Homo sapiens: one gene and its partners. The protein of the gene in region 1 interacts with the protein of each later gene in a pairwise test. Each region holds a gene or a part of one and is shown on either strand. Other genes may lie near its edges. The genes, in order: MAPK6, TTK, SEPTIN5, SUSD4, RAP1GAP, SMS and IDH3B.

Region 1 (4,131 bases):
TCTGCGGTTGGAACAAGTCTCCCCTTTCTCTTGGTTTTTTTCACTCATTACCTCTTCTTCACACCTGGTACTCAGCTGACGTTGTTTTAAATATTAAAAAATATAAAGCATTCAAGCTCACCCCAACCACTTAACTTCATTACTCTGTGATTTTTTTTTTTGAGACAGAGTTTCGCCCTTTCGCCCAGGCTGGAGTGTCCTGGCGCGATCTCGGCTCACTGCAACCCCCCGCGGGGTTCAAGCTATTCTCCTGCCTCAGCCTCCCGAGTAGCTGGGATTACAGGTGTGAGCCACCACACCCGGCTACTTTTTGTATTTTTAGTGGAGACGGGGCTTTCACCATGTTGGCCATGCTGGTCTCGAACTCCTGGCCTCAGGTGATCTGCCCGTCTCGGCCTCCCAAAGTGCTAGGATTACAGGCGTGAACCACCACGCCTGGCCCTTTGTGATCTTTTTGAAGTGGTCTTTGCCTCTTTCTTGAAGATGCCCATAATAATGACTAGAAGGGCTATTCTATGTCTGGTTCTCAGCAAGATGGTGATGAAGTCATTGAAAAAATATGCTGACCTGCGTCTCTAATTTCATAAATACTTAAATTTCACATAAACACTGAAAAGGCTCCTTGGACTCAATAAGCCATGATAAGTAATGTAAGTTTGCTTTTAGCCAAGTGGGCCCAAGAAGGCACCCATCCACCTTTCTACGTTTCATAGTGCATCCCTTCCCAAATTCAAATTGTCCTATCCCAGTTCCTGCAACAAGCCAGGTACTCTGGCCTCCCAGTCTTTGCTCACAGAAACACCCTCCCCACCTCCTGGTTATATCCGCTCCTCCGGGATCCAGCTGAAAGGCCACCTTGGCGACCACTCCTGAAAGCCTTCCTCCATACTCTGGCAGAATGAATGACCTTAGTATTGGCCTCTAACGCGTCTGTCTTGTGCTCGGGCTGTCGCCTTCCAGCCAATCCATCTTAAGGTCCACCCTTCCTGGAGACTGAGGCCTCTTCCTCTCGGATTGCCCAGTGCCTTGCACGTAGTAGGTGCTTAGTAAACGCTGGCACTGGGTTTGGTCACTTTGTTCCCTTAATGCCAGGGCAGGTAGTAGAGCAAACGGCCCCAGCTGTCTTCCTCCCTGCCCGCCCGCAGGCAAAGCCCCCAGGAGACGCCGGACGAGCCGCGTGCCTTTCCCACCGCCTCCGCGGCGCGCGCAGCCCAGTCACGGGCGCTGGAAATTCCGGCGCGTGCGGGTGCGCTGGGCAGGGCGGGGGCGGGAGAACCCGTGGAGTGAGCCTGTGACGTGAGGGGGCGTGGCACCGCGAAGCCCCGCCCCCTCTTCCTCGCCCTCTCTCGCGGGTCGGGGTTACATGGCGGCGACTGCGGCAAAGCGAGAGCCTCGGAGACGCCGCTGCCGCCAGCACAGCCGGAGACCTGAGCCGACACTGGGGGCAGTCCGCGAGCCCCGCACTCTCTCGATGAGTCGGAGAAGTCCCGTGAGTGTGTGTGTGTACGTGTGCGGGGTGCGCCGGCGGGGCGGCTCGGGAGGGCGCCGCGGCGGGCCCGGCGGCGGCGGCGGCGGCGGCGACGGCGGAGCCGGCTCCCTCCTCCATTGTGTGTGACCCTCCGGCGGCTGCCGCTCAACAAAGGCGTTTTTGTTCGGTCTGCCGCCCGCCCCCTGCTCGCCCGCCTGCCCGCCCGCTCGGGCCTGGCCGGCGCGTCCCCGCGCGGGCGGGCGGGCGGCGGGCTGGGGTCCCCGCGTGGGGCCGGCCAGGCGGCCAGCGCGCCCCTCCCACCCGGCACGCCCCTCGCCGGTCGCCCTGCCAGGCCGCGCCCGCTCCCTGGCCCCGCACGCCTGCTGCCGTCCCGCCGCCTGCGCCTGGCTCCGCGGGTTCGAAACCCAGCCGGACCGGACCGGAGGGCGGGCGAGCGAGGGGCGGCGGCCCGGGGAACATGAGGTGGCGTGGAGTCTCGCCTTACTGGCACGCTGCCTTTCGAAATGCTCCCGCGTCTCCTCCCCCATCCCACCCGGTGACTCGGCCTCAGCTGACTCCGGCCGGGCAAAGTCTCCAGTGGCGTAGCGCGCAGCGCTCACCCGGCTCGTCTCAGAGCCCTGAAGTCCGCCCAAGTTTTGAGTCTTGCCATGAATGAGGTACTGAAAACTCGGAGACGAAATTCCTAATTTCCTCCCTCGGCCCTACAGTCTTTCCTTAGCTTCTTTCGGGACCTTAAGTGGTGGTCTGTAAAAGTGCCCAAATGAAAGCTTGTTTTGTCGGTTCACCAAAAAGGGCCTTGTCACTTTGCTGTGCATTTTAGTCCGCCTTGTGAGTTGTGTCGAAAAGTAAAGGTGTTTTGGCATCCTTTTGTTTCTTGGCGAGTGTAGGACCCAACCGGTTTAGGTGTTAGGGGGATCTCTGTGCAGCGGGAGCTTCTTGATTCCTTTCCTGTTTTATTTTTTCTTTTGCTTGTTCATTGGAAAAGGTCCAGTGAAAGGGACTGGTGAGTTGGAATTAGAAGCCTACTTGTATTAACGGCAGAATTCGTGTTCATTGCTAAAGATGCAGTCTCAGTAATGACTTTTTTTTTTTTAACGGATACAGATGATTTGTCAAGGGGAAAAATTAACACGCCATACAATGAAGAGCAAGCAGCTTCAGAGTAATTTTCTGATGGCTGATTCTTCTAGCCTGTCTCTTACAGTTCCAATTGCACATGTCCTCCCTCTTTAACGCTGGAAAACTGAGATGGAAAGAATGATCTGACCAGAAGAATGTAGGGTCCAAACAGGGCCTGGCCCTGAAATCAGGAATTTCTTCATAGAAATATCAGATTTTAATGTTTAAAAAATAATTTTGAATTGGGTGAAAGGAACTTTGTCTTTAGATAGTAGTTGTTCAAACATGTTTATGAAGTGTTTGCTATGTGCCAGGGATTGTAAAGTCATTTCACATATGTTACATCATTTATTAAGAATTGCCTTAAGCTTGTAAAATTATTCATTGATGTCCTGAATTCAGTAATTGCAGTTAATCTAGAAAATATGCCAGATTTGAGCAGAACATATTTGATCACCTAGGTATTACTGTTGAGAAGAAAACACTGGAAAATGGAGACTATTTTAGAAAAAACTTCGTATATGAGGATATTCTGGAATTCATTTATTTGCAAAAGAGGATTAGAAGTAGTCGTTGGCTACTTTCTGTTATTAAAAAATCCAGAGAAGAGTGATTTGAAGTCAGTTAATTTTGTAATAAAAAAATGCACACATTCTAAAGACTAATGTTAGCACTAAAAGTGTTGCAGTGCTTTACATAAATTCATTTAAAGCATCGTGAGAATCATAACTGACAAAATAGTAAGGTTTGCTGACTCAGGGTACTTTGCTGAAGGGGATGGGGGTCGGGTAGGAGGAAGCTTACAAGTGCTGCTGCAAGTTTTGAGTTGGATGATGACTCATGCTGCCCACGGACTGCTACGTGGCTTTTTTTTTTTTTTTTTTTAAATACACTGTATTTTTTTCTAAATGATAGGCTAAAATGTTCCTGTCCACATTGAAATTCTCTCTCATTTTTTCTGAAGAGGAACAGCAGTTTCTCTAAAAAAGTAATGGCTTCTTAAATTGCATTTTAAAAGGATATCATATACCCTACAGGTGGAATTGTGTAACATTTGCTGAGAGGAAAGGTAAAACCAATTTCTGGTCAGGTGCTGAAATTAAATGTTTGATACTAGCAGTTTTTTGGCTACTGCTGAGAGAGATTTGTTACAGGTTGTTTATAAAGGACAGATAGTACTTTTATGGTGTCGGTAGAAATTGACCTTATGTTTTTATTGGTTATGTGAAAGTTATCTTTATATTTAATATTTAATCAGATATGGCTCTGAATATGAAAGTTTCACTCAGAATTATTAAAACATAATTATATATTGTGCTTTGTGATTTATGTGAATTTTCTGTTTTAATAAAGACAATTTGAAATAGGTATTAGTCACTATTTTTCATGGTTTTTTTTTAAAGATAAGCTGAATGTACAGTTCTAAGTTGAAACTTGGTAATAAGATAAATCTTTTGACTGATTTTAAAACAGCCAACGTTTAGCAAGGTGGCTTAAAATAAGATTGAGAGGGGGAAAAAGAT
Region 2 (3,500 bases), on another chromosome or scaffold:
TTTTTCTCAGTATTAACGTAGTCTGTCATCCTTATCTCCAAATACTTGGATTATAGCAGGTCTAAGACTTTGGGGTTCAGGCATCCTGAAAATATGAGATGTTTACTTTATTCATTCTCCTAATCATTTTGTATTGTATGCCCTGTGTGAGAAGTTGGTTTTTTTGTTTGTTTTTTACTGTTAGGCCTACCTTCTGGGTTGGTTTTTACTTGTCCTTGGTTCTTTTTAGGGTTTTTCTCTGCCTTTACCTTATCCTATATATTTTTTTGTTCTTAATAACTGTTATCCTAGTTAATTGTAATTTATCTCCTCCTCATCTCTCTCTCTTAAATTATCTTAAAAGATAATTCACCAGTGATCAAGATCAGGGCTATAGGGGTGGAGATGTCAGGAGCATTAGGGTCTTACTGTCTGGCAGTATAATTTGTGATGCTCTCTAGTGGGCAGTGAATCACAGTGGTTAAGAGGATAGATTCTGAAGCCAGACTGTCTGGCTTCAATTCTAACTGTCACTTAGGCTGTGTGACCTTGTACAAGTTACTTAAACTCTCATTGCCTTAGCTTCCTTGCCTTATAGTGGGGATGATGATAATACTTCAGCATTGATGTGAAGATTAAATGATGCAGTACTGTATAAACAATGAACTTAGAACAGTGCCTGGCACATAACAAGTGCTATGTAAATATTTGCAGAATATATAAAAAAATTATTGAATTGGGTTCACTAATTGAAGGAATAAATACAGCTTGACCTGTAGACTGTGAATTTTTTGGTCCTTAGAATGTTTTGCATTGTTTAATATTACAGTGGATTTTTATTTTAAAGGCATTGTTCACAGTGATCTTAAACCAGCTAACTTTCTGATAGTTGATGGAATGCTAAAGCTAATTGATTTTGGGATTGCAAACCAAATGCAACCAGATACAACAAGTGTTGTTAAAGATTCTCAGGTAAGACTTAATGTTGGTTCTCTCACAGTAGAGTTCAATTCTTTTTTTACCTGTGAAGTATTATATTGCAAATGAGTGTTATATTTTTAATCACCTCATTCTTCAAAGGATTTGAAGTCTTTTAATAAGAATAGATTTAAAAATATAAACCATGATCATTGTAATGTAGAATAGAAAGTCAAGATCAAATAGTAATATCTCCAGCAATTGTGAATGGTTTTCCTATAGCTGAAGTAGAGAAACAGTAATACCTTCCTTGGAAATCACTTGGTCGTGATCAAAAATTGACCTGAAAATTTGGCTCAGAGTTTCCTTGTAGCAAAGAGGGAGTTGCAGTTATATGTTTTTCACTGTCTATGAGGTAAGATCATTTTTATTCTTCTAGAGAAGCCGACCTTTTCCTATCACTGAAATTGGAAAAAAAATTCTTAAGTGGGCCTTCATATTGTAAATGCCATAAGTATTATAAGCAACATTTTTATAATAGATATTGCAACAGCAAACTAAAAGACGTTGTTCTATAAAAACTAAAGCAATGGCACCAAAGTATATCTAAAAGATATTCTTGCTTGGAACCAAGATGATATGTTCCATGTTTACAGATTTTTGATGTGAGTCCACCTTAATCCCAGGAGTAAAATAGACTTTGTTAGGAGGAATGATGGACGACATGCCCTATTTGACAGTCATGTCTCTTTGTATCAAAAGTATGGCAGATCAATGAGTTGTAAATCAGCTTGACAATATCTTCCATGTCAAGGCCCTAAAGTAGATATATTCTGTGTTTAAAGCAAACCATGTATTTTAGAAGAAAATGAGCTCATTGTAAGGTTGGCATATCCTACTGTAGAAACTCAGAGGACTACTGTGAGACAAAGCTAGATGGTATTTTTGTTTGTATATTGGTGGGCTTATTTAAAAAATATATTTTTTTAAAGTTGAGTATGTTACAACAAGAAACGAATGGTAAGTCCCTCAATGGCCTCAAAGTTTATGGCCATTAATAGGATTTTAGCCTGGAGAGTTTTTAGGGCAGGCTTTACTAGTTGCCCAGTATAATCATAGAAAAAGCACAGCATTCTGAAAGGAGTCACTTTGCTGATTATGAACCCAACTCGTTTTGCTGCAGTTGTGAAGAAATTTGATATATATATCTTAACGTTGTCAGCAGTTATTTGAAATTTGCAAGGATATCATTGAAATTTATAATTACCCAAGTTTCCAAGGATCTGGCATTTGTATTTTTAAGAATCTAAAACTTAAAGTATAATAATAATAATAATAATAATAATAATAATCTCAAAAAAAAATCTAAAGCAGAATTAAATATTTTCATTGATTTGTGTTTTCTCTGACTTGGCATATAGGTTGGCACAGTTAATTATATGCCACCAGAAGCAATCAAAGATATGTCTTCCTCCAGAGAGAATGGGAAATCTAAGTCAAAGGTACTGAAAAGATTATTTACATCACAATTATCTGGCAACAGTAGGGAATGCACTATTTTCTGAATAAACTTACCAGATAACAATTTCTTTAAGTTCTAAAACTTTTTAGGCCATTACAGAGACATTGCTGGTTTTTTTCGTTTCCAATTCTTACTATTTTTCACCACTTATTCGTTTGTGAATTCTACATTTCCAAGTACAGCTGGAGAATGTAATTGTTTTCTGGCCTGCCACTGGCTACTTTTCCACTGACTTTATCTCGCTACCTCGATGAGTTTGCGTTAGCCTCATGGGTGCCCTTTGTCCGGGGCTCCTTTTGCCTACCTTGATGCCTTGGGCTCCCAGGCTAACCCTTCTTTCTCTACATCAGTGTAACCAAGTGGGTGCAAGCACACATTGTCCCAGGGACCTGTATTCATTCAAGTCATAGATCTGCCTCTTCATTAACAACTGTCTTTGGCCAAGTGACTTGCCTAGTTTCCCTGTCTCTAAATTGTGCCTATAGACAGTGCCTATTGTAAAATAAATTGAGGATTAAATGGGAAAGAATATATAAAGTACTTAGTACATTTATCCAGCTCAGAATCATTGCTTGATAAATGTGTTTTTATTTACTAAATTTTATTTTCCTCCTTAGAAAATCTGGCTTGTAAGTGTTTTTCAAATAACTGGCATACAATTTTGCCAAATGTTTTCATAAAATTCTTTTTATATTTGTTTAGCCTCCACTCTTCTAAAACTTAAATTTCTTGTGTTTTTATTAGACTTTCTGTGGTTTTGTTCTTCTTAAATAAGCAGTTCCTGACTTCATTTATCAACTCTATTTTCATTTGCTTTACAACTTGAGTACTTGTGATAACCAGAAACTTTTCTCTATGATTAACCATATTTATGGTTTATCATTTAATGCCCATGACAATGTACTTTTATAATTTCTATATCAGAGTTGAGAAAACAGACACATAGCATTACCAGTTAGTAACACATCTTCAAGATATGTTAAAGGTAATATTAATTTCATATAACTAATTATTTACTTGAAATAGCTGAAATGATTGGAATTGTGTAATTGGCTTAGATATAACTATTCTATTTAAAAGA
Region 3 (3,158 bases), on another chromosome or scaffold:
CTTCAGCTTCCGGATCTCACTGGGGACAAGACAGTCAGCTTTGGCGATGAGAGGCACGATGTTGACCTTCTCATGCAATGCCTTCATGAAACCCACATCCACTGGCCGCAGCCTGCCGAGAGCAGCCAAGGGTGGGCATAGGCACAGCCAGGGGGCCATATTGTAGGGGCTGCACTCCCGAGCCTGGCCCCAGGACAGCCACACACCCATGCCCGAAGGGGGAGATGAAGTATAGGCAGCAGTGCACTCGGTTGTCTTGGATGTTCTTTCGGTTGAGGCCGCTCTCATCACGGAAGTACTGCTCAAACTGCTGGTCCACATAGTCGGTGATGGGCTTCCAGCTGTGGGCAGGAGGGAGGTGAGGCCAGGCCTCGAGTGCTGTGGCCGCCTAGGCAAGGCCTTTCTCAGCAGGCCTCACTCACCACTCGGTGTTGTTGACAGCGTCCCCGAATCCCGGCGTGTCCACGATGGTGAGCTTCAGCTTGACTCCCTTCTCCTCAATGTCCACCGTGTGTTTTAGAATCTCTACCGTCTGGCTGATGCGCTCTACGGGGAAGGGGCCACTGGAAGGGCCTCTCCAACCCTCAGCCCCTCACCCTTGGCAGCCAGGACCCTCGTCCTCATCCATCTTGGTGCCTTGGCCCTACCCCCAGGGGACCCACACCGCGAGAACAGAACAGTGGGAGCTGGACCTGAAAGGGAGTCCTTGGAGAGGTCCCATGGAAGGGGACTGGGGATCAGTGCCAGGGCCTCCTGGGGGCCACTCACCCTCAGCACTGAGCAGCTTCCGGTCCTTGTACAAGTCTGTCAGGAAGAGGCTGTGGACCAGTGTGGACTTCCCCAGGCCTGACTCACCTGCACACAGGTACAGAGAAGGAGCTGCGTTAGGTCTGGGGCTCCAACGACAGAGCTTGGCTGGCCAGTGACCCCAGCCACTCCCCCGAGGAGCCTGGCCCACTCACCAGCCACCATGAGTGTGAAGTCAAAGCCTTTCTTCACCGACTTGCGGTGCACCTGGTTGGGCAGTGTGGCGAAGCCCACGTACTGCTTGTCAATGTCCTGGGGACAGGATGGAACAGGGTAGGGACACAAAGGTTTCTCCAGAAGCCCAATACCCTGTCTCTTACCAAATGCGGTATGAGGAGACAGCAGAGGGTACGGTTCCCAGGGTGGGGCATTTCGTTGGCAAAAATAAGGGGAGGGCCCGTGGGCAAAAGCCTGGAGATAAGAAGGCAGGCGAGGTGGTGGCAGGAGAAGGCACCCCTGGCCCCAATCCCAGGGAGGGCTCTGCAGGGACCGACACTGTATTTATTCCGTGGGGAGATGTCAGGCCGCAGCAGGCACAGGCGATGTCCTCCCTCCTCGGGCAGAGGGCAGCAGGATTGGGACCCCTGGGACACACTCAAGGCCCTCCATAAGCCGGAGAAGCTGGGGGCCTCGACACTCACCCCTCCGGAGAGTGCCAGGGGGCGGGAGGCCCCACCTGGCCCGGATCCAGCCGCGGGGGCGGCGGCAGCGGCGGTGGCGGAGCAGCGCCTATTTATAGACCGCGGCGCCGAGCCTCCCCCGCCCGCGCGCCCAGGCGCCCAGCCCCCGCAGACCCTTGGGGCCCCTGGAGGGGTCCCACGGCCGCATTCTCCGCCGCGTTTTGGAGTCGCGTGAGGTGAGGCCTGGACAGGGCACGTCGCCCCACCGTGGGGCCGCGGACCTGCGAGGCCGCTGCGGAGGGAAGGGCTGAGCCTAGGCGCTGGCGGGCCGTGGCGCGCGGGGACGGGGACCCCATGCCGAGTCCCGGAGCCCGCGGGGTCACAGACCCACGTTCCGCCCTCTCCACACACGCACCTTGAGCCGCCTCTGGGCCTGGGTCCGCGGCGACAGCAGCTGCTCCACCAGGCGGTCCTGGGGCGCTGCCAGCGAGTCCATCGCGGCGACCCCCCCAGGCCCGGGGGCACGCTCGGACCCCAGGCCCGGTCAGGCCGCCAGAGCCCGGCGACAGCGAGGGACCTTGGCGCGGCTCTGCCTTAGGCTGCGTTGTCCACCCCGTTTTGCGGACGCGGGAAGTGAGGCCTGGACAGGGCACGTCGCCTACCCGGGGGATCGTCGACCCCCGAGGCCGACCGAGCCATCCCCCTGACTGGGCGAACTGGCCCCAAGCTGTGGCGGCGTCGCAGTCCGGGCAGGCCCCGCTCCCGCACCCGAGCCAGAGGCGGGGCGTCGCAGGCGCCCGCGGAGCGCGCGGCGGGGGGCGGCAGAGACGGCCCCGCCCGCCGTCGCCGGGAAACGGTCGCCTGGAAATTGGGCCGCGGGCGGAGCCACCCGAAAGCGGCTGCGGAGGGCAGGGCTGAGCCGAGGCGCGGTCGGGCCATGGCTCGCGTGGACCGGGAGCCCTGCCGCGCCCCCGGGGCCTCAGTCCGGGCTCCAGGACAGCAGGAGGGGACGACCGGGTCCTGCACGCGGGCCGGGGCGGGCCGGGAGTCGGTAGCCACCGCGCGTCCCGCCCCCAAGAGGTGCTGCGCGGCTTCCGCCCGCCAGAGGGCGCCGGAGGCCGCTCCCGGGACCCACGCGCAACAGCGCGGGTACCCGCCCAGTTCAGGGCCCGCCGTCTTCTCGCAGACTTGCCCGAAAACCTCCCGGCGGCGTCTCGACGCCCCAAGTGCCCACAGACACGCCGCGCCCTGCACCCCTCCCCAGCCCTGCTTGGGGCTGACCTCCCCCGTGCGTGCGTGCGTGCGTGCGCGCGTTTGTGTGTGCGCGTCCGTGCGGGTGTGTGTGTGTAATGTGTGTGTGTGTAATGCCTGCGTGTGTGCGCGTGTATACATGCGTGTATGCGTGTGTGTGTACGTGTGTGCATGCATTGGGTATGTGCGTGTGCGCGGGTGTGTGCATGTGTGTTTGGTGGACTCTTTCCCAAGACATTCGGGGGACCGGAGGAGGGCAGAGCCCACCTTTTCTGAAGTCCAGCCTGCCTGTCCCCTAGGAGGCTTAGGGTGGACAGAAGGGAAGGGAAGGGAAAGGAAGGGTGCAGGCTGCCGGAGTACTGGAGGTCCCTGCAAAACTTGGAAGCCCCCGCCAGCCTGCTGAATAAACGCCGGCCACCCATGCGCTGCCCTGCAGCCCTCAGGTGGCCCTGCCCTCAGAGACAGGGGTGGGGGTGGGAT
Region 4 (3,500 bases), on another chromosome or scaffold:
GGAAAAATCCAACCTCACACTTCTTTTGAAGGTCGGATATGTTTACAGAAACAATTTCTGTTTTGGAAAATAAATGTATGGTTCAATTTGGGGCTGGGGGAACAATGACAATTGTCAACTAGAGAGAGGCTCATGATTCTGAGATAAATGTTAAGTGGAGTCTTTTTAAAATGCTGAAACAAAACATTACCTTGGTTACTGTCTCCATCATGAGATGTATTTGAACACATTCTGACCATGTGTAAAAACCACCAGATTTACCCAATGCCATGGATCCATGTGCCACACCATGAATACAAACACTGATGATATGTTACCAGAAGACAGCACAGAGTTCATGAGCTCTACTTTGTGAAGAAATTTCCAGAAAGCAGAGTCTGCCCATCTTTCCTTTCCTTTCTCACTGCAACTGCCACATCCTGCTTTCGTCTTGCTTCGAGTAGAGTTGTCTGGATGAAGGAAGATTCTCCAAATGTCACACAAGGACCTTTCCTTTGGGAGCTGGTCCCTTGCTGAGGGTGCAGGAGGCTCTGCTGTTCTTCCAGCATCTCAACACAAACTTTCTGCAGAGGCTGACCCATCCAAATTTGGAGTCCAGAGACAGTTTGAAGCAGATGTTAGAAGCAAATTTACATGATGTGACATGCTTTCAGAGGGGGCGGGGAGTACTTGCCAGTCAATGGGATGCGTGATGATTCGGTGGGATGTGCGTGGAATTGTCCCATGTTCCACAGCACGATACACATTTAACACCCCTCATCCAAGACCACGCGAGGGCTTCCCTGCTGCCCCGGTTCCCCATGGGTCTTGGTGAATCCTCAAATCTCATTTAAAAGCACTGCCATTGCAGTTTGTCAGCCTCACTGTGGAGCCTGAGATGCATAATGTGAACTGTGGTCCCCATGTAGACAAGTTAGACATTTTGCCCCCAGGCTCTATCCTTCTGTGACCTCACTCCAAGATACAAGGTCCTTTCCCCGAAGGAGCAGGAGAGTCATCTGGATCTTGACCCATATTAGGGATCTTCTTCCATTAGAGGAATCTCTGTAAAAGAAGAGACGGTTATTAGCTTAACATAACCAGAAAACACCATGACGATCTGGAATTATATGCCTCATTAAAATATCTACAGTTTCTCAAATCAGTGAGGAGAAGAAAATGTTAAGTTCCACATACCAGTTAATAACCAAATAAATCAACCTCCTATACAACATCTTTCTGTAACAATTGTTCTTTGCCAGGAAACAATTATGATCTTATTTCCAGTTCATAAAAAATAAAATGTTACATTTTAACCATAGGCCTTAATGGTCACACAAGCCAGAAAGTTGCAAATTCAAGTACAGAAAGGCAGCGTGGTTTGCAGAAAAGGAACACTGTGGTGGCCCAGGAGACCTCTGTTTCCACGTCATTACTGCCATTTACTCTCAATATAAGCCAAATTAGTGCTCTCATTTGCAAAGTGGCACTGGGGCTCCCCTTCTGTAGGAAACAGAGACCTAATCAATCTGACACATTTTCCTTATTTTACCATGAATCTACCCTTCCTTGTGACAGGTACACATGCATCTTTTACTTCACATCTGGTAAAAATAACTTCTATGTACACAGAACTCTGGGGCTAGAACACACTGCTGGGCCCTAGTGCGTGCCTCTGGATCCTTCTTCCTGGCATGTATGTGCCATCCTGTCCCTAAGCCCCACTTCCAGGAGTCCTATCTAATTAAGGAATAAAGAAGAAATACATTCCAGATCATACAGACACCACAAAAATGAAGCACCGGCCACTGCTGCCTTTCTACTCTGGATGGCTCGATGCCTTTTGGTGCCTCTTGAAATTTCCATTAATGGGCTCATTACTTGCAAGATGATGATCATTCCCTACAATAATTGGCCTTGCCCAAGGCCTCTACATGGAGAGAGAGCATGAAGCAATTTAAGCTGAGTGAGAGGTAAACAGATTGATTCGACTCTGTGCTGGGGGGTGGAGCGTGCGTAGCAAGGAGCTGGCTTGAAGATGCTGGTGCGGAGGTGTTTGCAGGTGTGGCTTGGGCCCTGGGGCAAGCACTTACCATCTGCAATGTCGATGCCTGGGCTGGTGGATGCCACCTCCTCTGCCGTGCTGGCAATTATGTCAGGGTTGTCCGAAGCAGGGTGGGTGCTCTCTTGGCACCTGGGAGGTGAATACAGACTTTGGAGCAGCTCAGAAGAGCCTGAGACGCTGTCACAGGTTTCTGACTCCCCTGGGCCTGTGTCCGTGTCCCCTGAGCCGGGGTATGCTGGGGGGCTCTGGTCGTCCACGGGTAAGGGGCAGCCCTGGCCCACAGAGGCCATGTACCCGGGGCCTAAGGCACTCAAGCCGCCACTCACAGCTTCGTCATAGGACGGGAGCATGACGGGCACGCCGTCTACCACCACAAAGTCAGGGTCACTGCTGGAACTCCGGGGAGGCCCCCTGTGTAAAGGAAAGAAGTGCCAACATGTGAGAGCCATGCCACTCTGGGGATGAGGCCACCCATACTCCCTCCTGCACTCGGGGTCCTCAGGACCCACGATGGGCAGCAGAGTCCCGTATGGAGGATAATATGGAAGAACCAGCCTCCTTTCAGGGACTCCTCTGGAAGATGATGCTGCCATCCCGGCTGCCCATGCTCCGGAGAGAGGAGGTTTTCTTTTTGTCACTCTCTCGTGTCCTCCTGCCTCTGGGCCTTACTATCTCCTCATGCTTTTTCCCTTGCTCCTTTGACCTGTGGGCTTTGGCCTTCTGGCCATAAGCTCATGGAGCAAGGGACAACATAACCCTTTCTAACAGAGCAGCCCAGTGCACCTCTGAAGTGTCCTGTAGGATGGGATTGAAAGTGGGATAGCACTGTTAAAAGTACAGAAAATAGGTCAGGTGTGGTGGCTCACACCTGCAATCCCAGCACTTTGGGAGGTTTTGCTTGAGCCCAGGAGTTTGAGACCAGCCTGGGCAACATAGTGAAACCCTGCCTATACAAAAAATAAAAATGTTAGCCACATGTGGTGGCACGTGCCTGTAGCCCTAGCTATTCAAGAGGCTGAGGCAGGAGGATCCCTGGAGCCCAGGAGTTTGAGGCTGCAGTGAGCCATGATCGCACCACTGCACTCCAGCCTGGGTAACAGAGCGAGATGTTGTCTCATAAACAAACAAACAAACAAACAAAAAACAGTAACTGTGGACCCTCAGTGCCCAGAGGGACTAGCTGGCCCTATGCTCATCATGTTTCTTTGTTGTTTTCTGCATTCAGTATAAAAATCATTACATTTTAGTCTAGATTTAAAAAAAGAAAAAGAAAAAGGAAAGAAGGAAAAAAAAGGAAAGCTGTGAGCACTATGTCACTACCCCGTTCAAGCTACGCAGGCTCACCGCCACCTCCTGACCCCCCGCCACTCTTCTAAGCAAGGCCCGGGTTGCTGGTGTGAGGGCTCCAGGAGCGGCGGCAAAGTGAGTCTGCATGTCTGCAGGGCTCCCTCACGTG
Region 5 (3,500 bases), on another chromosome or scaffold:
CTGGGCCAGAACCTCCCCCAGCCAATTTGGAGGTTCCGGGGAGGGGCCCTAGCTGGCACGGGGTGGGACTTGGGTTGCTACACTGCCCTCTGACCACTGCCCTTAGGCTGCAGATCCCACAGAGCCCTGGGGGGCGGGGAGCGGTAGCCATTCTGAGGACTCGGCCTCCTCCCACCCTAGCCCCCTCAGGATGCTGTCCTAATCCTGGGCCAGTATTGACGTGCAGTCCTGCCGTGTGAGCTCGGGAGAGCCCCTTGCCCTCCTGGGGACTGTTTCCCTTTCGTAAACTGGGAGGCTGTCTCTGGGAATGGATATCTTCTCTCGTTCTTTCTTGCTCATCAACTCTGCTTCAGGGCCTGGGGCAGCAGGATCCCCAGAGGGGATGTGGGGGGGGCACTGGGGCTCCCAGGTAAGGTGGCACTGAGTTGGGGCCTCTCCCCACAGTCACTGATTGTCCCTGGGAAGAGCCCCACGAGGAAGAAGTCGGGCCCGTTCGGCTCCCGCCGCAGCAGCGCCATTGGCATCGAGAACATACAGGAGGTGCAGGAGAAGAGGTGGGTGAGTGGGGGACAGTGCCCCATTCCCCTGCATCCCCATCCCTGAGCCCCATTCGGTGGCAAAGCAAGGCAGGCAGAAGGGAGTGCCCGCCCCTCTGCCTCTCCATCCCCACTAGTGACAGCTGTGTGGTCAAGTCCCTGCTGCGTGTCGGGCACCAGGGCCAGCACGTCACCTAACGTGCCACATGCAGATCAAGAAGCGGTAGGTCAGAGGAGTCAAGGGGCTTGCCCAGATCACACAGCCAGTGATGGGCAGAGCTAGGATCTGAGCCCTGATCTGTCTAGGGCCAGCATCCGTGCTCTTCCCACGGCCCCAGCGCATGTGGGAGGGCCTAGTGCTGGTTTTCAGGGTGGCCACAGATGGGCCTGGGGGGTCCATGAGTGTGGGCAGCATGAGGGCAGTGAGCCCAGGCCAGCAGCAGGGCTGCCCCCGGACATCAGAGGCTAGCTCCCGGCTGCCTCCCCGATATTAACCATGTGTGACCTTGGGCGAGTCACTGACCTCCTCTGAGCCTTACTGTCCCAACCTGGAAAAGGGACAAGAACACAACCCATGGCATGGGGCTGCTGTGGGGACTCAGGGCACTGCGTGTGAGGCCAGGGCCAGGTCCCCTGAGAGGGCTCCAGGACGGGAGTGGGCATTGTCCTTGCTGCTGCCAGAGCTCCGCATGCTGTGAGTCCTGGGTTCAGGTCTTGGCACTGCCACGTCCTAGCTGTGCGTCCCTGGGCAGGTTCCTTATCCATAATGGGACAGCTATACCTGCTCCTGTGGAGAGGACCTGGGAGGAGTCCCATCCTGTCCCATATAGCCCCATCAGTGCCAACCCCATCACTGGCCAGGCTAGCCAGGGAGCCCACAAGACTGCTCCAGGGCTGGCCCTGAGTATAGGGGCGTGGGTATGAGGCAGGAGGCACCGTGACTCCCCTCACCGCCTGGGCCTCACGCTACGCCTGATGCCAGGCCTGGTGCTGAATCCCCCCGCTGCCCCCGTGTGCCCCGCAGGGAGAGCCCTCCGGCTGGTCAGAAGACCCCAGACAGCGGGCACGTCTCACAGGAGCCCAAGTCGGAGAACTCATCCACTCAGAGCTCCCCAGAGATGCCCACGACCAAGAACAGGTTGGGGCTCAGGGCACGTGGGGCTTGGGGGCTTGGGAGTGGTGAACCGTCCTTCCCCTCCCCTGCCTGGGCCCGGGACAGCACAGGAGCCTTGACTGTGCCACAGCAGGGTGTCAGGGGGACCTGGGCATTCTCTGGGGCCCTCCTTTGACATATACCCAGCGAGCACTTTGTGCACGCCCAGCCCCGCGCCCGGCTCTGGAGCACAGAGGTGCCCTGCGCATAGGTCCCCGCCTCACGGCCGCAGGTCCATCAGAACGCGGCCTCATAGGCTGTTGCCGGATCATGGTGATAGGAGGAACCCGAAGCAGGGTTGGGGGGATGAAGAGGGACTGGGGGCAGAGGTGTTTTAGATGGGTCCTCGGGGAGACACCTCCATGGGGTGACATTTGAATTGGGAACTGAACCAGCCCTGCTAGGACTGGCATGGCAGAGGAGCTCGGCCAGTGCAGAGGCCTGGGGCACACTCCAGGGACAGAAAGAAGGGTGGCTGGGAGTGGTGACGTATGCCTGGAGTCCACCTACCTGGGAGGCTGAAGCAGGAGGATGATTTTAGCCCAGGAGTTGGAGGCTGCAGTGAGCTATGATCATGCCTGTGAATAGCCACTGCACTCTAGCCTGGACATCATAGCAAGACTCCATTGCTTAAAAAAAAAAAAAAGAGTATCTGAGGGGCTGGGCCTGGACAGACATTGTGACATTGTGCTGGGTGGTGGCGGGAAGGAGGTTGGAGAGGTGGGCAGACACTGGCTTATAGCTTAGCAGGCTGTACAAGAGCTTTGACTTTTTTTTTTTTTTTGAGACAGAGTCTTGCTCTGTCTCCCAGGCTGGAGTGCAGTGGCACAATCTCGGCTCACTGCAAGCTCCACCTCCCGGGTTCACGCCATTCTCCTGCCTCAGCCCCCCAAGTAGCTGGGACTACAGGTGCCCGCCACCATGCCCATCTAATTTTTGTATTTTTAGTAGATACGGGGTTTCACCGTGTTAGCCAGGATGGTCTTGATCTCCCGATCTCGTGATCCGCCCGCCTCAGCCTCCCAAAGTGCTGGGATTACAGGCGTGAGCCACTGCGCCCAGCCTAAGAGCTTTGACTTTTATCCTAAGTGTGACAGGGAACCTTGGGAGGATTTTAATTACGAGGGCGATGCTTTAAGAAGCTGACTTCGGTTGCTGTACAAAGAGGCTGGAGTGGGGTGGGATGGAAGCAGAGAGGCCAGTGAGGAAACTGTCCCTGCATTTGGTGTCCGTTGGCTGAGCTGCCTCTGTGTTGGGCTCTGTGGGAATCAAGAGGACTCAGCCCAGGCTAAAGAGCCGGGTAGGTGAACAGAGAGGCAGGAAAGGGTGGCAGGGACCAGGGAGACGCAGTATGCAGGAGCCAGAGTGGGGAGGGTCATTCTCACCTTGGGAGGAGGAATCAGGGAAGGACTCCTGGAGCGAGAGCCCTAGGCTGATTTTTTAAAGGCACATTTGCTTTTCGGGATTTGAGAGGACTGAGACTCCAGGCAGGAGGCATAGAGGCCCTGAGCATGAAAACCTTGTGGGATTAAGAGAGTAGACTGTGGAGTTGCCTGGACCTCAACCCCTGCCCTCCCACCTGTGCTGAGTGACCCTGGGCTGTGTGCCTGTCCCCTCTGTGCCTGGTGTCATCTCATCTGGAAGATGGGTATAATAATCATAGCGATAAGATAATTCAGGTAAAGGCACGTAGAGCAGTGCCCGGTGCAGAGTGAACGTGCACCCGATGATGTTAGTGTCGCTAACCGCTGCTGTTTTTGAACACCACGCCAAGGATATTGTGCTTTACCTGGGGAAATGGGAGGCCAGGA
Region 6 (3,500 bases), on another chromosome or scaffold:
TACCTCCTGGTAGCCCGTTATAGGGCTACCAGCGAGATGCCCTTTAATGCTAGGTTGAGCACTTCATCAGGGTAATGGCATTTACATCCTGTTAAGATCCTTCTTTCTTTGCTAGTCTTTAAAAAAACCATAGAGTTACAATGTAGGAAAGAGCTCTTCACCTTAGCCAAGGCACTATTGACACAATTGAGAACAGGCACTGTTTAGTTTCAGTGGGTTTGCCTGTAGTGCAGTAATTGCCGATAGGTGGCTGGCTGTCAAGGAGAGGGTAGTCTTCCTCCCCTGGAAGTGAGTGACTTTGTCGTTCATCCAATGCCATGGGTGGCTCACTCTCACCTCACTCCCCACCATCAGCCAGGGGTGGAAGAGGCTTCCTCCAAGTCCTGTTCGCCTGCTCTCTAGCAGTTGTCCTGATTGGTGCTTCACATTTTACAATTTACAAGAAAAACCCTCTAGAATGCCTCACATTCTGAAAGCTGAATTTGTTCACATGGAAGGTGAAGAAGTGGTTAAATGAAGAGTTGTCAGGATGACATGAATTTATGGGAGTTTGCCTTTTCAATCTCGGTGTTCTTTATAGATGTTAGTATTCCCTCATAGAAAGCCTTGTTAACTTGTAACAGGTTTAGACTGTACTCTTGGAAGCTGGTGAGCAGGGAAGGGAAAGAGACTCATAAGAGTACGTCAGGCCGCATATCCCAGCATTTTACATGTCTACAGCTGTACATCATGGCGTTTTAATGTTGAACACTACTGTGTTTGAGAACACATGACTCACGCAGTTGTGTTATGTATGCAGTGAGCTCTCGTTTTCTTTGTGTTTGGGTTAGACTTGCCAAGCCCCTTTTCCAGGTCTTTTTTTTCCTGTCATTTAGTGTCCTCTGCTGGTACCTTCTAGTACATTCATCCTGTGAAAAATACCGGGTATTTACAAAAGAATGAATGAAAAAATCATCATTTTGCAGCCTCTGTAGTAGTAACTGGTTCAGGCCAGAATCTTCTGCATGCTAAAACCACTGGTAAAGGTTTGTTGGGGGGTGAGGACTTCTACCTAGTTTCAGAGCACCACCCCACAGCCTGCTTAGTAATTTCAGAGGGTGAAAAAGGTACCTTTGCAAATGGAGAGAGCCCATGAATACCACTTTAACCAAGTGATCACAGACTTAGCATCACCAATAATAGGACAGATACACATCTTGTGTTCCCGATGTGATGCCTGTGTAATATATGTCAACCTGATTCTAACCATGAAGAGTGAGAGATTATCAGGTAAACCCACGAGTCATTTTTCAGCAGAATAGCTGGTCTGTACTTGGAGATATCAGTGTCATGAAACATACCAGTAAAAAAAAAATTATACGTTACATGAGGATAAAAAAGAAAAAAAAAACAGGGAAATGCAGTGTATGAGCCTTTATTCAAGAGCAGAACATCTATAAAGGATATAACTGGGGACACTTGAAGATGGACTCTGTACTAGATAACCATATCATACCCATGTGAACTGGTGTAAATGTGGTAATGTCCATGTAGTTATGTAGATAGTCTTAAGAGACAGATGCTGCTGGAGCATTTGAAATATGAAGTGTGCAGTGGCCATCTTCTCCTTCAGCTTTTTGTTAGAGAAAATCTAAAGCATGACAGGATTTTTTAAAAAGTGAACTGTGTACAATAGTTGTCAACATTTGGTGGTGGCCGTGATTATATAAAACTAAAAGCCCAAGCTTTGGATTCGTTTTGTGCTTGTCAAAAGTCGGCAGTCATGTGGCTTTCTTTTGCACACTCTTCATCCTAGCTCCACTTGTAAGGCAGTGTTCTAGTAAGGTACATTTCTGTTTTTCTCTTTTTCCAGATTACCACCCATAGTGCGAGGAGGAGCCATCGACAGATACTGGCCCACCGCCGACGGGCGCCTGGTTGAATATGACATAGATGAAGTGGTATATGACGAAGATTCACCTTATCAAAATATAAAAATTCTACACTCGAAGCAGTTTGGAAATATTCTCATCCTTAGTGGGGATGTTAGTAAGTATTCCATCCCTGCCCCGATCACGTAACAAAGTGGTGATGTGTTGAATGATGGTGTTTTCCTGACAATTACTACTGTCGTGGATTTGTTTGAGTTTGTTTTTGACACTGCTGGTTTTTGAGATGCACATTTATGTCATATTAACCTGTGGATTGTCTGGGCTTTCACATAAACTTTGTCTTGACATTGCTTCCTTAGTGATGAGTATTTGGATTGTATTTCAAAAGAAAATGCATTTGCATATTTAAAAAAAAAAACCTTTTTGTTACAGAACAATTCAAACCTAAGTAGACAAACTAGTGTGATGAACCCACATGTACTTACCATCGAGTGTGAACAATTACCACCTCCTAGCCAGTCTTATTTTACCTAAACCCCAGTCCACTTTGTCCCTCTCATATTATTTTGAAGCAGCTCACAGACATCATATTATTTCATTTGTAAAGATGTAATTGCTTTTAGTTATTCGGTATATTGACACATTTTTAAGGCTGGATTTTCTTCCCACTGACTAATGTCCATTTGTATTAGGTGTCAGATGATCAGGGTTGATGAAAAAGTCCTCAATGGAAAAAAAGCTTGCAAATTGTTCACAGTTTTAAAAAATTGAAAATGAAAAATTTACATTTTGGTCTAGATCCCAGCTCTTCAGTGTGGTGGGGCCAGGTGGTTTGTGTGTTAAGGTAGACTCACCATTTGGATCTGTTTCTCCTCCCTAGATTTGGCAGAGAGTGATTTGGCATATACCCGGGCCATCATGGGCAGTGGCAAAGAAGATTACACTGGCAAAGATGTACTCATTCTGGGAGGTGGAGACGGAGGCATATTGTGTGAAATAGTCAAACTAAAACCAAAGATGGTCACTATGGTAGAGATATCCTTTGTTGTATAAGAGAACAAGTTCAGTGGGCTTCTTTTGTTTCCTTCCTTCAGTGTCTCACAACTCAAATTAATGTTACCACAGACTAGAGGCAAATGTGTTACCTAGACTGCCTTGAACAGACAATTTAGTAACAGTACCCTTTTATGTGGCCATCAACAAAGAAATAATCAGCTGGGCACAGTGGCTCATGCCTGTAATCCTAGCACTTTGGGAGGCCGAGGCGGGTGGATCACCTGAGGTCAGGAGTTCAAGACCAGCCTGATCGACATGGCGAAACCCTACCTCTACTAAAATTACAAAAATTAGCCAGGCATGGTGGCGGGCACCTGTAATCCCAGCTACTCGGGAGGCTGAGACAGGAGAATTGCTTGAACCCTAGGTGGCAGAGGTTGCAGTAAGCCAAGATTGCGCAACTTCACTCCAGCCTGGGTGACAGTAAGACTCTGTCTCAAAAACAAACAAATAATCTACCTAGTTGAGGATTAAAGAGCAAAGGACTTTGATACTGTGTCTGCTGCCTAGCAGTTTCCAAAATGGCTTCTCTAAAGCCATCTCATGAGGAGAAAAGAAGATTAAGTTCCTTTT
Region 7 (4,107 bases), on another chromosome or scaffold:
CAAATGAAGTATGACTCACAAGCCTGCACTTTTAACAAGAGCTCTGGTCCATCTGGATAGGTGATCCAAAACCATACTTCCAGAAGAGCGGGTGAGGCAAATCTTCCTGTACCAGTTTGTCTTTAGGTGTGTCAATTGTACACACCTAAAATCGTGACTGGAGGCCGGGCTTGGTGGCTCACGCCTGTAATCCCAGCACTTTGGGAGGCCGAGGCGGGCGGATCACGACGTCAGGAGATCGAGACCACGGTGAAACCCCGTCTCCACTAAAAATACAAAAAAAAAAAAAAAAAAAAAAAAAAATTAGCCAGGTGTGATGGCGGGCGCTACTCGGGAGGCTGAGGCAGGAGAATGGGGTGAACCCAGGAGGCGGAGCTTGCAGTGAGCCGAGATCGCACCACCGCACTCCAGCCTGGGCGACAGAGCGAGACTCTGTCTCAAAAAAAAAAAAAAAAAAATCGTGACTGTAATTGTTTTGAGACGGGTCTCGCCCCGTCTCCCAGGCTGGAGTGCAGTGGTGCCATCACGGCTCACTACGGCTTCCACCTCCCGGGCTTAAGTGATCCTCCCACCTCAGCCTCCTAAGTAGCTGGGACTACAGGTGTGTCACCACGCCTGGCTAATTTTTAAATTTTTTGTAGAGTCGAGGTCTCCCTATGTTGTCCAGGCTTTTTTTAGTTTTTATGATTGTTACTTTAAGGATCAGTCTGAAATTCCCTTTAGTCACACTTACACGCTTGAACTCATTTCTGACACTAGTTATGGGCCTGTCCTGGGGAGTTCAAGTCCGGGACACACTATTAGGGAAATAACTGTCAGAGCAAAGAACAAAACCCTGTAAGAAAAAACTACGAGGCGACGGGTAATACAGAGGTCCTGGGCACTCTCGGAGACTGGCGGAGAAACCCGACACACACCTCCCATGTCTGTACTGTATTCCTCGAGAGCCTGACATACAGGTATTCAGTGAGTACTGGTTAAAAGAATAACAAACGCATTGACACACAAATTTTAACAGCTTCCCAAGGATTTTCTCTCAATCGCTTGTTAAGCTCAGGTCCTCGTCTGATAAACATGACGCTACATTTTTCCCCCTAATGTTATTTTGAAGTTTCGACGTAGATTAAATATGGCGACTGAAAACAAAGCAAGAGACAAAGTGCTTGCGCATCCCATGACCTCCCCACCGGCAAGGAAAAGGAGAAACAGGCGTGAGCAAGCAGTGCTGGTTGGCGCAGAGAGAGAAATACCAGGAACTCAGTACAGGCCGGAAGTCGGGGTACGGGGCCGCGCCAGCTTCAGGCGTCACTTCCCACGCGACTTCCTGCGGGAAACATGGCGGCATTGAGCGGAGTCCGCTGGCTGACCCGAGTGAGGCCCCGGGACATGTCGGGCAGGGGCGGGCGAAGGAGCGGAGAGTTTGTCCTAGGGTTTCCTAAACAGGGCAAAGTCAACTGTAGTGTTCGGGGTCTGGATGTCTCAAAGCTGACCTTACAGGCTTGTGTGTCCCTGTTGCAGGCGCTGGTCTCCGCCGGGAACCCTGGGGCATGGAGAGGTCTGAGTACCTCGGCCGCGGCGCACGCTGCATCGCGGAGCCAGGTATGCACGAATCTGGCTGGGGTCTCTCTTACGACCCTGTCCCTTCCTCGCTGCTCCCTCCCCTGGCTTTTCCCCACCCCTCCCGGGTCTCCCTACTTCTCTACTCCCAGGATCCGTGCTCCCGCCCCAGCTCTATCTTTACTTCTCCCCTCTTCCCCCAATTGAGGCCGAGGACGTGAGGGTGGAGGGCTCCTTTCCCGTGACCATGCTTCCGGGAGACGGTGTGGGGCCTGAGCTGATGCACGCCGTCAAGGAGGTGTTCAAGGTGAGTGGCCTCGGGGATCAGACAGTAGAGGACAGTAGTGTGTTGGAAAGGACTTGGCCTTGACTGTGATGTTTTGGGAACCTGTCTCTGAAGGCTGCCGCTGTCCCAGTGGAGTTCCAGGAGCACCACCTGAGTGAGGTGCAGAATATGGCATCTGAGGAGAAGCTGGAGCAGGTGCTGAGTTCCATGAAGGAGAACAAAGTGGCCATCATTGGTATGTGTGCCCTCTTGCCACTTGTCCATGTGCCATTTAAAATCAAATGACCAAATGTTTATTAAGCCCTTCTCCCCACATGCTATGCAATTATATTAACTCCAGGGCAACCACCATTGGTATTTGGACATTTGTTCCTTCCCATTGGGAGCCCAGGAGTTGAGAGATCATGTCAGCTGTCTATGCAGAAAAGTTCCAGGGGTTCTGAGTCTGTCCTGAGGCTACATCAACTGTCATCAAATCTTATTCATTGCATTTCTGGAATACCACTTTTAGCTGCCCCTTTTCTTTTTTTTTTTTTCCCCTCCCTTCCTTCCTCTTTGTTTCTTCTTGCTCTGTCGCCCAGGCTGGAGTGCAGTGGCGCGATCTCGGCTCACTGCAACCTCCCCGTCCCTGGTTCAAGCAATTCTCCTGCCTCAGCCTCCTGAGTAGCTGCGACTACAGGTGTGCACCACCACACCCAGCTAATTTTTGTGTTTGTTTTGTTTTAAGACAGAGTCTCGCTCTGTCGCCCAGGCTGGAGTGCAATGTTGCCATCTCAGCTCACTGCAACCTCTGCCTCCCGGGTTCAAGTGATTCTCCTGCCTCAGCCTCCTGAGTAGCTGGCTGGTATTACAGGAGCGTGCCACCATGCCTGGCTAATTTTTGTATTTTTAGTAGAGATGGGGTTTCACCATGTTGGTCAGGCTGGTCTCGAACTCCTGACCTTGTGATCTGCCCGCCTTGGCCTCCCACAGTGCTGGGATTACAAGTGTGAGCCACCATGCCCAGGCTAATTTTTGTATTTTTAGTAGAGAGAGGGTTTTACCATGTTGGCCAGGCTGGTCTCGAACTCTTGACCTCAAGTGATCCACCCACCTCTGCATCCCAAACTGCTGCGATTATAGGCGTGAGCCACCGTGCCTAGCTGCCCCTTTTCTTTTGTCTTCCGCGCTTTAATCTCCTCATTTGATTTTTTTGGCTTCTAGTTCTGCCCCTATAGTTCATCTTCCATATCTCTTCTTGGAAAGAACAGCCTGATTTTCCAGGCCCAGCCTTACCATAGGAAAGTCAGTACTTTATAAGTTGGCCCTTAATTTTCTGCCTTGGTTCCACAACTCTTGTTCTGTGCTTCAATCACACTAGATTGTGTGTTAGATTCCAAATATGTACTACCTGACTTATATTGTTCCCTCCACCCAGAACGTTCTTTCTTTGGTGCTACCTGTTAGAGTCCTTCTCACTCATTCACTGTATTAGTTTCCCATAGCTGCCGTAACACACTACCATGAACCTGGTGGCTTATCATTAACAGAAATGTATTCTCTCACAGTGCTGGAGGCCATCAGTCTGAAATTAAGGTGTTGGCAGGGCCCTGCTCCCTCTGAAGGTTTAGGGGAGAAACCTTTCTTGCCTCTTCTGGTGGCTCTTGCTGTTTTTTGACTTGTAGATGCATCACTCCAATATCTGTGGTTTTCTTCCCTCTCTGTCTCGGTATCATTTTTCTCCTCAAATATTTAGCCCTGGATGGGACGATTTTTTCTCAAGATCCTTAACTTAATTACATCTGCAAAGCCTCTTTTCCCAAATAAGGTCACATACATAGGTTCTGGGGCTCAAGGCATGGCTGAAGTGCCAGCTCTTCTGTGCTGTATCCTGATATTACTGGAGAGGATTTCCTCTTTGTGTTGCTATGCAAGTTTCCCATGGTACTTATCATGTCTTTCATATTTTCTGTCTTTCCCAGTGTACCGTTTGCTTCTCAAGGGCAGGAGTTGTATGGTTTTAGTTGTTATCCTTATTGCCTGACATATAATTGATATTCATCAGTAGGTGTTGGGTTAAAAAATGTCAAATAAGGAGAAGGCACAGATAAAAAGATCACAGATCTGCTAGCATTGTTTTTCAACTTGTTGTTAAACCCAGGCTCTTTTTTGATAAATAGAAAAAATCTGTTCTCCGTTTTGAAGTTTCAACATAAATTAAATATGTTGACTAAAAATAAAGCATTAAGGCCGGGGCGGGTGGATCACTTGAGGTCAGGAGTTTG

The links.
Region 2: the proteins of MAPK6 (region 1) and TTK interact in a two-hybrid assay, tested with the Homo sapiens proteins (one large-scale study listed by BioGRID and IntAct).
Region 3: the proteins of MAPK6 (region 1) and SEPTIN5 interact in a two-hybrid assay, tested with the Homo sapiens proteins (one large-scale study listed by BioGRID and IntAct).
Region 4: the proteins of MAPK6 (region 1) and SUSD4 interact in a two-hybrid assay, tested with the Homo sapiens proteins (one large-scale study listed by IntAct).
Region 5: the proteins of MAPK6 (region 1) and RAP1GAP interact in a two-hybrid assay, tested with the Homo sapiens proteins (one large-scale study listed by BioGRID and IntAct).
Region 6: the proteins of MAPK6 (region 1) and SMS interact in a two-hybrid assay, tested with the Homo sapiens proteins (one large-scale study listed by BioGRID and IntAct).
Region 7: the proteins of MAPK6 (region 1) and IDH3B interact in a two-hybrid assay, tested with the Homo sapiens proteins (one large-scale study listed by BioGRID and IntAct).

What each region holds. Positions count from the first base shown.
Region 1 is NC_000015.10:52,017,888-52,022,018, forward strand, and holds the start of MAPK6 (mitogen-activated protein kinase 6), read left to right. Parts: upstream 1-1,331; 5' UTR 1,332-1,489; exon of another isoform or gene 1,490-3,677; intron 3,678-4,131. UniProt on the Homo sapiens protein: Atypical MAPK protein. Phosphorylates microtubule-associated protein 2 (MAP2) and MAPKAPK5.
Region 2 is NC_000006.12:80,035,649-80,039,148, forward strand, and holds part of TTK (dual specificity protein kinase TTK), read left to right. Parts: intron 1-826; coding exon 827-951; intron 952-2,318; coding exon 2,319-2,399; intron 2,400-3,500.
Region 3 is NC_000022.11:19,717,503-19,720,660, reverse strand, and holds part of SEPTIN5 (septin-5), read right to left. Parts: exon of another isoform or gene 1,924-3,158; coding exon of another isoform or gene 1,843-1,923; intron 1,060-1,842; coding exon 963-1,059; intron 856-962; coding exon 769-855; intron 547-768; coding exon 423-546; intron 342-422; coding exon 207-341; intron 113-206; coding exon 1-112. UniProt on the Homo sapiens protein: Filament-forming cytoskeletal GTPase. May play a role in cytokinesis. May play a role in platelet secretion.
Region 4 is NC_000001.11:223,221,177-223,224,676, forward strand, and holds part of SUSD4 (sushi domain-containing protein 4 isoform a precursor), read right to left. Parts: intron 2,456-3,500; coding exon 2,073-2,455; intron 1,045-2,072; coding exon 1,016-1,044; 3' UTR 1-1,015. UniProt on the Homo sapiens protein: Acts as a complement inhibitor by disrupting the formation of the classical C3 convertase.
Region 5 is NC_000001.11:21,599,858-21,603,357, reverse strand, and holds part of RAP1GAP (rap1 GTPase-activating protein 1), read left to right. Parts: intron 1-444; coding exon 445-554; intron 555-1,518; coding exon of another isoform or gene 1,519-1,560; coding exon 1,561-1,674; intron 1,675-3,500. UniProt on the Homo sapiens protein: GTPase activator for the nuclear Ras-related regulatory protein RAP-1A (KREV-1), converting it to the putatively inactive GDP-bound state.
Region 6 is NC_000023.11:21,975,209-21,978,708, forward strand, and holds part of SMS (spermine synthase), read left to right. Parts: intron 1-1,852; coding exon 1,853-2,028; intron 2,029-2,751; coding exon 2,752-2,906; intron 2,907-3,500. UniProt on the Homo sapiens protein: Catalyzes the production of spermine from spermidine and decarboxylated S-adenosylmethionine (dcSAM).
Region 7 is NC_000020.11:2,661,417-2,665,523, reverse strand, and holds the start of IDH3B (isocitrate dehydrogenase [NAD] subunit beta, mitochondrial isoform a precursor), read left to right. Parts: upstream 1-1,307; 5' UTR 1,308-1,335; coding exon 1,336-1,371; intron 1,372-1,518; coding exon 1,519-1,599; intron 1,600-1,765; coding exon 1,766-1,864; intron 1,865-1,957; coding exon 1,958-2,078; intron 2,079-4,107. UniProt on the Homo sapiens protein: Plays a structural role to facilitate the assembly and ensure the full activity of the enzyme catalyzing the decarboxylation of isocitrate (ICT) into alpha-ketoglutarate.